Linked DNA regions of Homo sapiens: region 1 is linked to region 2. The links come from fine-mapping of genetic effects on gene expression. A gene starts in region 2. The other region holds a variant in brackets. All regions are shown on one strand. Distances are between the middles of the regions. Region 1 has its middle 7.0 kb from the start of TSPAN14. Region 2 holds the start of PRXL2A (peroxiredoxin like 2A).

Region 1 (5,372 bases), 39 kb after region 2:
CTGGGAAAAGTAGCATTTGTAGGAAATGGGGAGCAGGATCTGCAAAGAGACTGAGGAGGAGCTGCGTGCAGGACACGTGGTCCCGAGTGGGTAGAGGAAGAGAGCCAAGGGCTCCAGGAAAGAGAGAATCAGCAGTGCCAGACAAGGACTGAAAAGCCCTCCCTTCCTCCCCCAACACACAGAAAGACAGACTGACACACACGCACACACACACACACACCCGTGGTTTAATAAACTTGGAGTTTCCTCAGACTGCCTCTAGGTGGCAGTGTATGCACGCGGCATCAACTGCTGCGCAGCTCTCCCCGGGGACTACCAGATTCTCCATGGAACCAACTAAAACTCCCCAAAGCTGTGTGACAGGGACAGGGAGAGGTACCTGTGATGTTTGCAACATCCATCTGTTTTCTGCTCTGTCTCAGATGAGTCTAGGTGTGCCTCTCTCCCCTACTTTGTAGTGGTAGGGGGAACTTTCAGTGGCTCTCCTAGCAGTGTCTGCGCCTAGAGGTCCCAGGGCCTTAGCCGACCCTCAAATCTCTAGGTGTGAGATTGAGACAGACTGGGGACTCAGGTGTGGTCATAAAGCTGACAGTCCTGCTTCTACCACTTATCAGCTAGGTGATTCCCTCTGAGCCCCCTTTCCACATTTATGTTACTAAGTCAGAGCTTTGTGAAGGTCAGTTTGCATGACATTATTCCAGAAGTAACACTCTGTGCTGTCAAGTGGCTTTGACATCTGCACAGATCCCATAGTTCCCTGGGTAGACATGAGCAGCTCTCCGGCCTGAGTGGACCTAGCTTTCAGGGGCAGAGTTGGGACTTAGCCCGTGCAGTCCGATTCCTGGTATTATACTTGCTCTTAACATCTAGGATCTGCTCCCTCCCTTGATGTCTTATTTGGCCACATCTGGGGTTTTCTTCTTTGGCAAAACTTTCTTCTCCCATGTGGAGTCATTACAGTGTGGTTGATGCACAGGGCTGAAAGGGCCGTGGGATGTCACCTGTTGAACAACCTTTCTTTCTCTGCCACCTTCAGTTTATGAAATGGAACAACTGAGGGCAGAGAGATGACAGGACTCCTTGTCACCACCATCTGCTTAGACAGTCTCAGATGCTATAATTAAAGGGTGTTCCACTGTGTCTTATCCTCACACATGGGCTCCTATCACAAATCTTAGTCCTAATTCTTTGCAGGGGACGCCACTGGCAGGCAGAGGTCCCATGGCTGAGGCTGTAGATGCAAATAAGAGTAGAAACCTCCTAGAAGTTTGCAGATTCCTTAAAATAGATTGTTCTGGAACAAATAGGCCAAGTATAGAATGACAGGCCAAGAAATAAATTTCCTTTCTGTTCTCTTTTCCCCAAGGCTCCCTAACCTCTTTCTTCAAGAAAGGCAACACCAGTGCAAAACTGACCTTGAAGTAAAAGTTCTACCAAAGATGTTGGCGCCTAACCCATTGCCATTGCCTGCACTCCAAGTCCTGCCATATACTGATGGAGTGACCCATCTTCCCACTAGCCTCTTGGTCCTGACCTCCTCACCCTCAGGGCCATTTGTTTCTCCGTTTCTTCCATCTCAATCACCTGGTCCCATGGATACACACCTCTGTCTGACCACAGCCTTGTGTCACCGTATCTCCCTTCTTCACATGCTGAGGGCCCTCCAGCCGCAGCCTCATCTTCTTTCCCCCTATCTACTAGCCCCTCCAGCTGTCACTTCTCTCCCCTAGTAGCCAAGCCTCAGGATACAACACCTCAACTGCTTTATTTCCAACCTTCTGGAATCCTTTGCACCATTGTTTTTCTATCATGCTCTCCCGGCAAACCCCAGATTTTGATCAATCCTGCTGTCTGTGCTCTCTGCACTTGCACATACTCCAGCTGCTGAGTACTGATGAAAAAGGTCATGTAATCTGAGATGTGTGTCACTCTCACTCTGGGTCTCCATTTGCAGCTGGGCTTGCAACCCTTCCCCAAACATTCCTGCTTGCCCCTGCTCAGAGGTGTCTCTCGTTCTCTCCTAGGTTTCTCTGAAATCCTTGGATCCCACCCAACACCCACTTAACCTTCAGCAGGTGCCCATTCTACTTCCAGAGAAAGTGGACCCCTTCCCTTAGGAAGCCCCACCGAACCCACAAACATCTGCATCCTCACCCAGCTTGTCTTCCTGCCTCCTGTCTCTATGAAGGTCCTGCTGTCCTCCAGTTTGGGGCTCTCCTCTTGTTCTGAACACCAATCCTTCCCACCTTCTCCAGCAAGCGTTTTCTCTCTTCCTTCAGACTCTCTTATCTCCCCTCTTCTCTTGCCTTCTCCCTTCATCATTTAAACATATTTGAGTCTCTCCTTTGTTTTTCTTGTTATTTTCTTTTAATAGAAACAGGGTTTCACTATGTTGCCCAGGCTCACCTGGAACTCCTGGGCTGAAGCGATTCTCCCACCTGGGCCTCCCAAAGTGCTGGTATTACAAGCATGAGCCATCGTGCCTGGCCCAAGTCTCTCCTTTCTTAAACAAACACCCTCCTGCAACTGCTTATCCTCATCATCTTCCAGTTAACAACCTCTCTCTCATTTTCCAATTGCTGTTCAGCCCACTGTTAACTGTCTTTGACCCAATTCTCCACTGAAACAGTTCTCTGAAGCTATTAACCCCATGGTTGCTCTTCAGCCTTGTTTCACTGGCCCTCTGCAGCCCTGGAAACTGGACCACTCCCCTCTTCTTGAAACACTTGTTGCCCCTGGACTTCCATCCATTCCACCCTCTTGGCTTTTCTCCTACCTCACTGGACAGTCTTCCTCAGTCTCTTTGGTCCCTCTGCTCTCTCGTTTTCCAAAGATTCTGTCCTTGGTCCTTTTCTCATCTCCCAGTCCCAAAATAATCTCCTCTACTCTGATGATTTCAATTATCACACACTGCTTCCTCAATATCGATTCTCCCTTCTTTCTTTAAAACAGGAGTTAATTTTTTAAACATTTCCCAACCTCCTTTGGAGTTAGGGTTTGTCATGTGACTGCACTCGGCGAGTGAGGCATAAGCAGTAGTCTGGGGATTTCTGGGTAAGTTTTAGGTGTTGCCCCTTCATTCTTTTTGCTCTTTCTTCTGTCTGGAATGTGGGTGGGAAGCTGGAGCTGGGGCAGCCATTGTATGACCACAAGCCAACTCTGTCCC[C/G]TAAGGAGAGCCAGACACACCAACAGAGAGGAGCTGGGACCTGATGACGTTGTGGGGCTGCTGATCAGCCTTGCTCTGCTTACCTTTAGACTTCTTGTTGTGTCAGAATTTTTTCCTACAACTACAGCGAGAAAGCTGAATGTAGTTAAGGCAATGTAGTTGTGTTGCTATTTTCTCTCCCCTCCCTCCCTCCATCCTTTCCTTCCTTCCCTCCTCCCTCCCTCTTTTCCCTCCTTTCCCTCTTTCTCTTTCTCCTCTCTCTCTGTTTTCTTTTTTTTTTTTTTTTCCTAAAGAGATGGGGTCTTACTATGTTGCACAGATTAGTCTCAAACTCCTGGGCTCGAGTGATCCTCCTGCCTCAGCCTTTCAAAGTGTTGGGATTACAGATGTGAGCCACCGCACCTGGCCTTGGGTTATTGTTAGAAAAGCTAAACACAATTTCAAATGGATACAACTTCCAAACTGATAACTTCTGTTTAGCTGTCTCTCTTAACTCCATACAGCAAATTGCACCTCTCCACCCTACCCAGGAACACTTCAAATGGAAGAGGTCTAAGGCATCACCTCTCACCAAACATATTATACATCCACACAGGGTCTCTTGTGTTCCTTCTCAGTGAATAGCGCCACTGCCCACGCAGCCAGAATATGATGTCTCTTTATTCCTCATTCTCCCATGCAATTAGTCACTTGTCAGTTCCAGCTCCTAAATATATCTTGATTCTGTCCACCTCTTTCTATTTCCTCATCATTTCTTTTCTAACCATTTTTTATTCCAATCTTGCTCCCTCCCACCTTCCCTTCCCACTCCAGCCTTAGGGATCTTTCTAAAGTACAGATATAACAATGTCACCATTCTGCCTAAAACCTGCCCAGGGCCTAAAGAATACTTGGTATAGAAGACTGCTAAAAATGATGATGTTGGCCCTGCACACACCACTACCCCTTCTTCTGCATAGGCCTTGCCCTACTGATCATAGGCATGGGCATGTGACCCAGACCTAGTCCAATTACGATATCTCATCTCCCTCATCACGCTGGTTGTGTCAGAGTTTGTTTGGCTCTCTCAAGCCACTCCATGTTGCTGTAAGAATGGGTCCAGGAGTGAATATGTGACCAGAGCTGACCCAATTAGGATCCTTTTCTTTTCTTTTTTCTTTTTTTTTTTGAGATGGAGTCTTCCTCTGTCGCCCAGGCTGGAGTGCAATGGCACAATCTCAGCTCACTGCAACCTCCATCTCCCCTGTTCAAGCACGATTCTCTCACCTCTGCCTCCTGAGTAGCTGGAACTACAGGCATGCGCCACCACACCCAGCTAATTTTCCTACTTTTAGTACAGACGAGGTTTCACCACGTTGGCCAGGCTGGTCCGAAACTCCTGACCTCAAGTGATCCGCCCGCCTTGGCCTCCCAAAGTGCTGGGATTACAGGCATGAGCCACTATGCCCGGTCGATCCTTTCTTGAGATTTGTTCATACCGACTTAAGAGTGTAGACTTACTCAGTCACATACCTGACATGGCAAACTCTGAGAACTAGGAGAAACAGAGGGTAGGGCCCCCGTTCTGGGACGTTGTCAGGATCAGCCCCGTTTTGTGTCACTCTGGTTTCAAGTTCTTCTTTCAATTCTGTGAGCAATCTGAGGCTCCTTCCAGTATCTCCCCTTTGATGACCTAAGCTAGTCTGAGTGGGGTTCTCATTTCCAGCCAAAATGTCCCGACTAATCCTTGGTAGTCTGGTCCTAATAAGACATCTTTCCTGGGTAACAGAGTTCTTTACAGCTTACCCAGTATTTTTCGAAGTTTTACAAACTTTATCTCTTTGGATTTTTATTACAAGCTTGTGAGGTGGGTTTTAGTATTACCTTGACTTTACAGATAAGAACAGCAGGGCTCAGGAATGTAAAGTGGTTTGCTCAAGATCATGTTGAGAACTAGGAGAGCTTGGACACCAACTCCCTCTTCTGTTCAATCTCACCCTGACCTGCCCATTGCCCTGTAAACACACACAGAGGCTGCAGAGTGGAGCCCAGGGTGGGAGTGCAGCACTGGGGACCGACACAGAGGGCTATAGAAGTCAGGGGAAGACAAAGGGCAAGCTCTTCCACTTACAATTTTATCTGTGGCAGCTTCAGGTCCAGGAAAAAGATAAGAAACTCTCAGCTTTTTTCTTTTCCTCCTTCCTATACTGTTTTTTGTTCCCACAGT
Region 2 (5,372 bases):
TCAGAACCTAAGGCTATTTTACAATCTTTACAAAATTTAAATTATTTTTCTCTTAAAAGCTGGGCAGGTTGGTGGGTTTTCTTGGTTTATTCTTCAGGTTTTTTGTTTTGGTTTGGTTTTTGGTTTTAGTCCTTGAGCTTTGTAAATAAGTTTTCCTGCGCCTGCTTGCCTGTAACTTATTTTTCTGGTCTAATGACTGTTTTTTAATGAGTTCAGCCTGTGCTTTCTTGTACAAAAAGAAACGTGGGCATGTGAGGAGCATATTAATTAGCTATCAGATGTAGCCTGGTTTTTGAAGTCCAGATCTTCAGGATGTTACCGAAGTGTAAATATAAGCATGACTTTTGCACGTGATTAGTAATTACATCACAGTTAAAGCCTCAGGGGACCTTCCACCCCAGAATTCTGCTATCCTCAACCCCTGAATGGCTCTGTCATTAATGGTCAGTCTCCAAGAACTCATTTCCCAAGGAAATGACTTCCTGTTTTGTTCTAAGTGGCCTTCCCTGCAAACCCTCCTCACCTTTGAACTTCCTATTTTGGGATGGAAAGATTGACCCTTCTCCCGCTCCTCTTCACAAGGTAAGGAGAAACAAGGGAGAAGAAAGAAAGGTCCTCTGGAGAGAGATATATGTATCATACATATCTTATACATATATCATATATATCTTATATATCTCATATATATCTTATATATATCTTATATATCATATATATATATATATATATATATATATATATAAAACTACACCCGCATTGCACCAAAGTATACGAAATATTTTCTGGCCTTCAAATCATATGCCTAACTCCTGCAGGAAAACTGCATGGGCACTCAGGCTGATCTCCCTTACCCCACAACTTAGATCCACCTCTCACGTTTTCTAAGTTTATTTCCACGCTGTCCCTGGGCCAGGCTCTAGGGTCCCAGAGGTGAAGTGGAGGAATTCACAGTTTGGTTGAGGAGAGACCCCCTTGAATAGATCAAGCTCCCCAAGTGTTGCTGTAAGTTTACATGGAACATGGAGTCTGAGTGGGAAGTCAGGGAGGTGAATCACGGAAGCCTTTGGACTTTGTACACCTGTGGGCAGCTCCCAGATGAAGGGGGGAAGGTGTTGCAGGCAAATGACCACCTTTGACGGGCGGACATCGGCCTGCTTTGCCACTTCACCTTATGCTGCCCTGTGACTGGTCTTTGCACTGTGTCACCGATATGTCTTTTTTTTTTTTTTTTGAGACGGAATCTCACTCTGTCACCCAGGCTGGAGTGTAGTGGCACCATCTCGGCTCACTGCAACCTCCACCTCCGGGGTTCAAGCTATTCTCCTGCCTCAGCCTCTTGAGTAGCTGGGACTACGGGTGCGCGCCACCACACCCGGCTAATTTTTGTATTTTTAGTAGAGACGAGGTTTTGCCATGTTGGTCAGGCTGGTCTCGAACTCCTGCCCTCAAGTGATCTGCCCGCCTTGGCTTCCCAAAGTGTTGGGATTACAGGCATGAGACACCGAGCCCGGCCAACCACTAATATGTATCGTGAGTCAGCTCTGCTGTCTCTGAAAGTCCAACCTCCTACTTTTTGTTTTTTGTTGTTAAGACAGGGTCTTTTTTTTGTTTTTTAAAGACAGGCTGGAGTGCAGTGGCGCGATCTGGGCTCACTGCAACCTCCGCCTCCCGGGTTCAAGCGATCCTCCCACCTCAGCTCCAGAGTAGCTGGAAATACAGGCACGCGCCACTATGCCTGGCTAGTTTTTGTTTTTTACGTAGAGATGGAGTCTTACTATGGTGCCCAGACTGGTCTTGAACTCCTGGGCTCAAGCGATCCTCCCAAAGCCCTGAGATTACAGGCGTGAGCCAGCGCGCCGGACACAACCTCCTACTTTCATGAAAGAGTGGGCACTTCCAACAGGAGGAGTAAGTGGATGAGCGGTGTGTGACACACCCGCCTCAGCGTCGCCCGGAGTCCGCAAGGCTGCGGCTCACCGTTCTCTGCCCCATAGCTGGCATTGTGGAGTGAAAGGGAACGTGGGTGGAGGATTGAGGTTGGAAATTCTGAATCTGTACATACAGCTTGAAGGGGCTCATCGAATGTGTCGGTCCTTTAGATTCCCCCTGCCCATGGAGGTTAAAAAAAAAAAAAAAACCTATCAAAAGAGCTATTCAAAACCAGGCTGAAGATTGGAAGGAAGTTGGCCAGCCTCGGCTGCAGGACAGGTGCTTCCAGGCTCCATTAGGGGTGTCCAGCGCCTTCTTTTGCCCTAGGCAGCGCCCTGAAGAACGCGTCGGGGCCTCGGTTCGCGGACTTGAGGAGTGGACCGACCGAGCGCTGTGCGTAAAAGGACCGCTGGGGCACACGCCCGAGCGCCACCGGAGCTAGGAGACCGCGGCCCGGAGGTCGGCGAGTCGGGGGCAGGCCCGGAGCTCCTCCCACGGGGGGCGGGGCGGGTCACATGGCGGTGGCGCGGTAGCGCGCGATGCAGCACAGGCTAGAGGCTGCGCAAGCGCGGGGCCCGCCCCTGGGACCCTCCGGGCCGGGCGGTTTGGCCCCTTAGCGCCCGGGCGTCGGGGCGGTAAAAGGCCGGCAGAAGGGAGGCACTTGAGGTAGGTGCTGCGCGCCGGGGCTCCGCGAGGCACGTGATGTCCGTAGGCGGGGCCTGCCGCGGCGTAGGTGGGGAAACTGAGGCAGTGCAGGGCCGGTAGGGTGGGTGCTGGGCTGGTGAGGCGCGCCCCTCGGGCCCGCGCCAACTTTCTTAGGAGCCGCCGCAGCGCTGGCGCTCCCTCCGAGGACGACGACCCTTCCGCCACCCTGCGTGGCGGCCGATGGAAAAACCCTGCGCCCAGACGTCGGAGAACGGAGACGGGGACCCGGCGCTGCTGCGGCGGGCTAGGGCCCCCTCTGTCCACGCCCGCAAGCCTTGAGTGACGCCGGTGGCGCCAACCTTCGCGAATTGTTGGGACAAAGAACAGAGGAGAGGGCCCTGCCCTGGAGCATGGGCCCGGGGGCCGCCCTGCTGGACCAGCCCCAGGTGCGGACCTGGCAGTCCTCGTCCTCGTCTCTGTGCCCGCTTAGGGTCGTGTCTTTTAAGAGGGCACGGTTTCTAGCGTTGTTCAGCGTTTCGGAGGCACCTGTTCCCCCTCTTTCCCAAGAGTCACAAACGCCTGACTTTAAATTGGGTAGAGCCCAGTTGTAAACTTAACAGCCCTGCTGAGGTCTAGGAATGAAAAGATGAACAATCTGCCCCCAGGGTTGTTGCTGGAGCGGGAGGTGAAGGCGCAGGTGGAGATGGTTAGAGGCAAAGGAAGGGAAGTCAAGGCCCAGCCGGTCCAGGGCTGTGGGAAGGAGGCACACCCGGGAGTCCACTGCCGGACCGGGGTTCCCAGCTGCTCCTGCGCCTCTTTTCCTTGCCACATCATGCTGTCTGCACAGCCCAGCAACCCAGAACTCAGCTTTTTTGTTTGTTTTATTTTAATGTATTTTCCTTTGAACCTGGCAGGTGGTTTTTCAAAAAGAAAATAATCAAGATTTGTTTTGAAAAGCATTGTGAAAAAGTCAGCTTGAATAGTCTTGAATGCTCCTGCTCGGGCCCAGCTTTGGAGAATGAGGATTGGGATTTCCACTGCAGACCCCGACTCGTTACCATACTCATTCATCAGAAAACTCTTCATTTTGTGTACAAATAACGTTTTGAGGGTAATCATTGCTCTAGAAATGAAGAATTATACATCGTATTTATTGCACTTTTTGTAAGGTACCTCACAAGGCACCTCCTATACATTTAATCCTTTGATTCTTGCAACTCTGTAGAAGGTAATTAAGGAAGCATTCCCATTTTACTGATGCAAAACAGTTCCTTGTCCAGGTTTATACAGCTTGCAAGAATTAAAGTTAGATATTATTCTTGGTGTGGGCCTTTCCTATATCCCCGTCTTTTATAAGAGCATGTCATTTAGTTGAGACCTTCTGCATTACTTCTGAAGGGGTACAAAAGACATTTCTGATGATTTTCTCATCTCGTGTCATTTAAATGGTGCTCAGAAAGTTTGGATAGGACTGGAACTCTAGGGCTCAAGCCCCAGGCTCTGTCCCTATCTAAGCAATAGGGCAGCTGTCCTGCCAGTTGGGTTCTTGCTTCTTTGTGAAATGTTGAGCAGAAGCTCCAAGTCTCTCTGCTGTGGCTTGTGTGGCAAGAACCATCCTGAGGTTCTGTGCAGAGAGCCAGCCTCACCTTTGAGCTCAGTGGCCTCTGGCACAGGGAAATTACAGCTGGGCAGTGTCCTTTGCCTTCTCTGGCACTGCTAGTGCAGGAGGCAGTGTTAGCTGCTACAGGAATAGCATGGAGCGGGCCTGCAGGCCAGAGGGGCTGAGACAAGCCAGTGTTCCCACCAGACCTAGAACGTTCACCAGAAAGCAGGCCTGCAGTGACACAGCTGCAGAAGTTCACTATTTTGTGCCTGTCCTGCTTCAGATATCCTGTCTTTATAGGGGCACGAGTGAATCTGAGCCCTGCAAAAGAGAGAAAGATAATGCTGCTTTGCCGTTTTCTAGTGCGTTACCGCATTAAAAATTGCTCTTCTTATATAATCTTTATGACAACTCTTTAAAGTGCCCTTGTTTTTAAGAAGACACTGAGGTTCAGAGGGATAAAATAACTCTCAGAGTCAAAGAGAGAAAACCCAGGATTATTGGCTTTTAGCCCAGTGTCTTCTGTGGTATTGCCTTGCCTTCCTATCCACACCCATATAACTTGATGAAGCCGGAGTTCTGAGCCCAGACAGGAGGCTGTGCAAGTGAGATTAGAATGGCTTGCTCTTTGAGGGGTGGGGGGCCCTACAGCTTGAGGAAACAAGAGGACATAATCAGCTACTGGGAAACCCTGAGATACGCCCAAGAGTGAGGAATGTGGGGGCTGGTGCTGCTTTCAGCATCTATTCAGAGGTTTCTGAATCTGGCATTTGAGAGTAGGACTGGGCCAGAACCAGGCAGATACACACCCCAAGGAGCAGGGCTGAGAGTTGGAGACTGAGGCAGGTAGGTGAGAGCTCATTGCAAGTGACTGATTTTGTGGTATATGAAGACAAGGGTGGGTGGAAGGGCATCTGTTGCTCATAAGGCTCTGTGTGCCTGCATCATCAGTATGCTAGACAAGGATGGACAGAGTCTTGTTATTGTGGGGAAGAGAGGTGCAGAATGGCTTCTCAGCGGAGACTAGGCAATGAGACCCTTAAGACATTTGGCTTCAGATTATAAGCTGCTTACCAAGGATTGGGCTTGGGAGAGGCTGATGATGTTCTCTCCAGGCAGCAGATTTCCCAGGCCCTGTTTACGGGCAGTCTTGCTCTTAGCTTGCCTGAGGCCAGTGAACAGGCTTCAAGACCTG

Evidence for each region. PIP is the estimated chance that this variant, and not a neighbour inherited with it, causes the effect.
Region 1: its variant is fine-mapped to the expression of PRXL2A in monocytes after interferon gamma (Fairfax 2014, PIP 0.93).

What each region holds. Positions count from the first base shown.
Region 1 is chr10:80,444,602-80,449,973 of GRCh38, forward strand. No RefSeq gene overlaps it. Among named protein-coding and RNA genes, the nearest start is that of TSPAN14, 7.0 kb to the right of the region's middle. RefSeq lists a silencer at 4,992-5,286. The variant C/G (reference allele first, on the strand shown) is at 3,167.
Region 2 is chr10:80,406,049-80,411,420 of GRCh38, forward strand. PRXL2A (peroxiredoxin like 2A) reads left to right here and starts at 2,503. Exons shown (of 6, transcript NM_032333.5): 1 at 2,503-2,595. RefSeq lists a silencer at 2,282-2,571 and enhancers at 2,857-3,450, 4,297-4,796.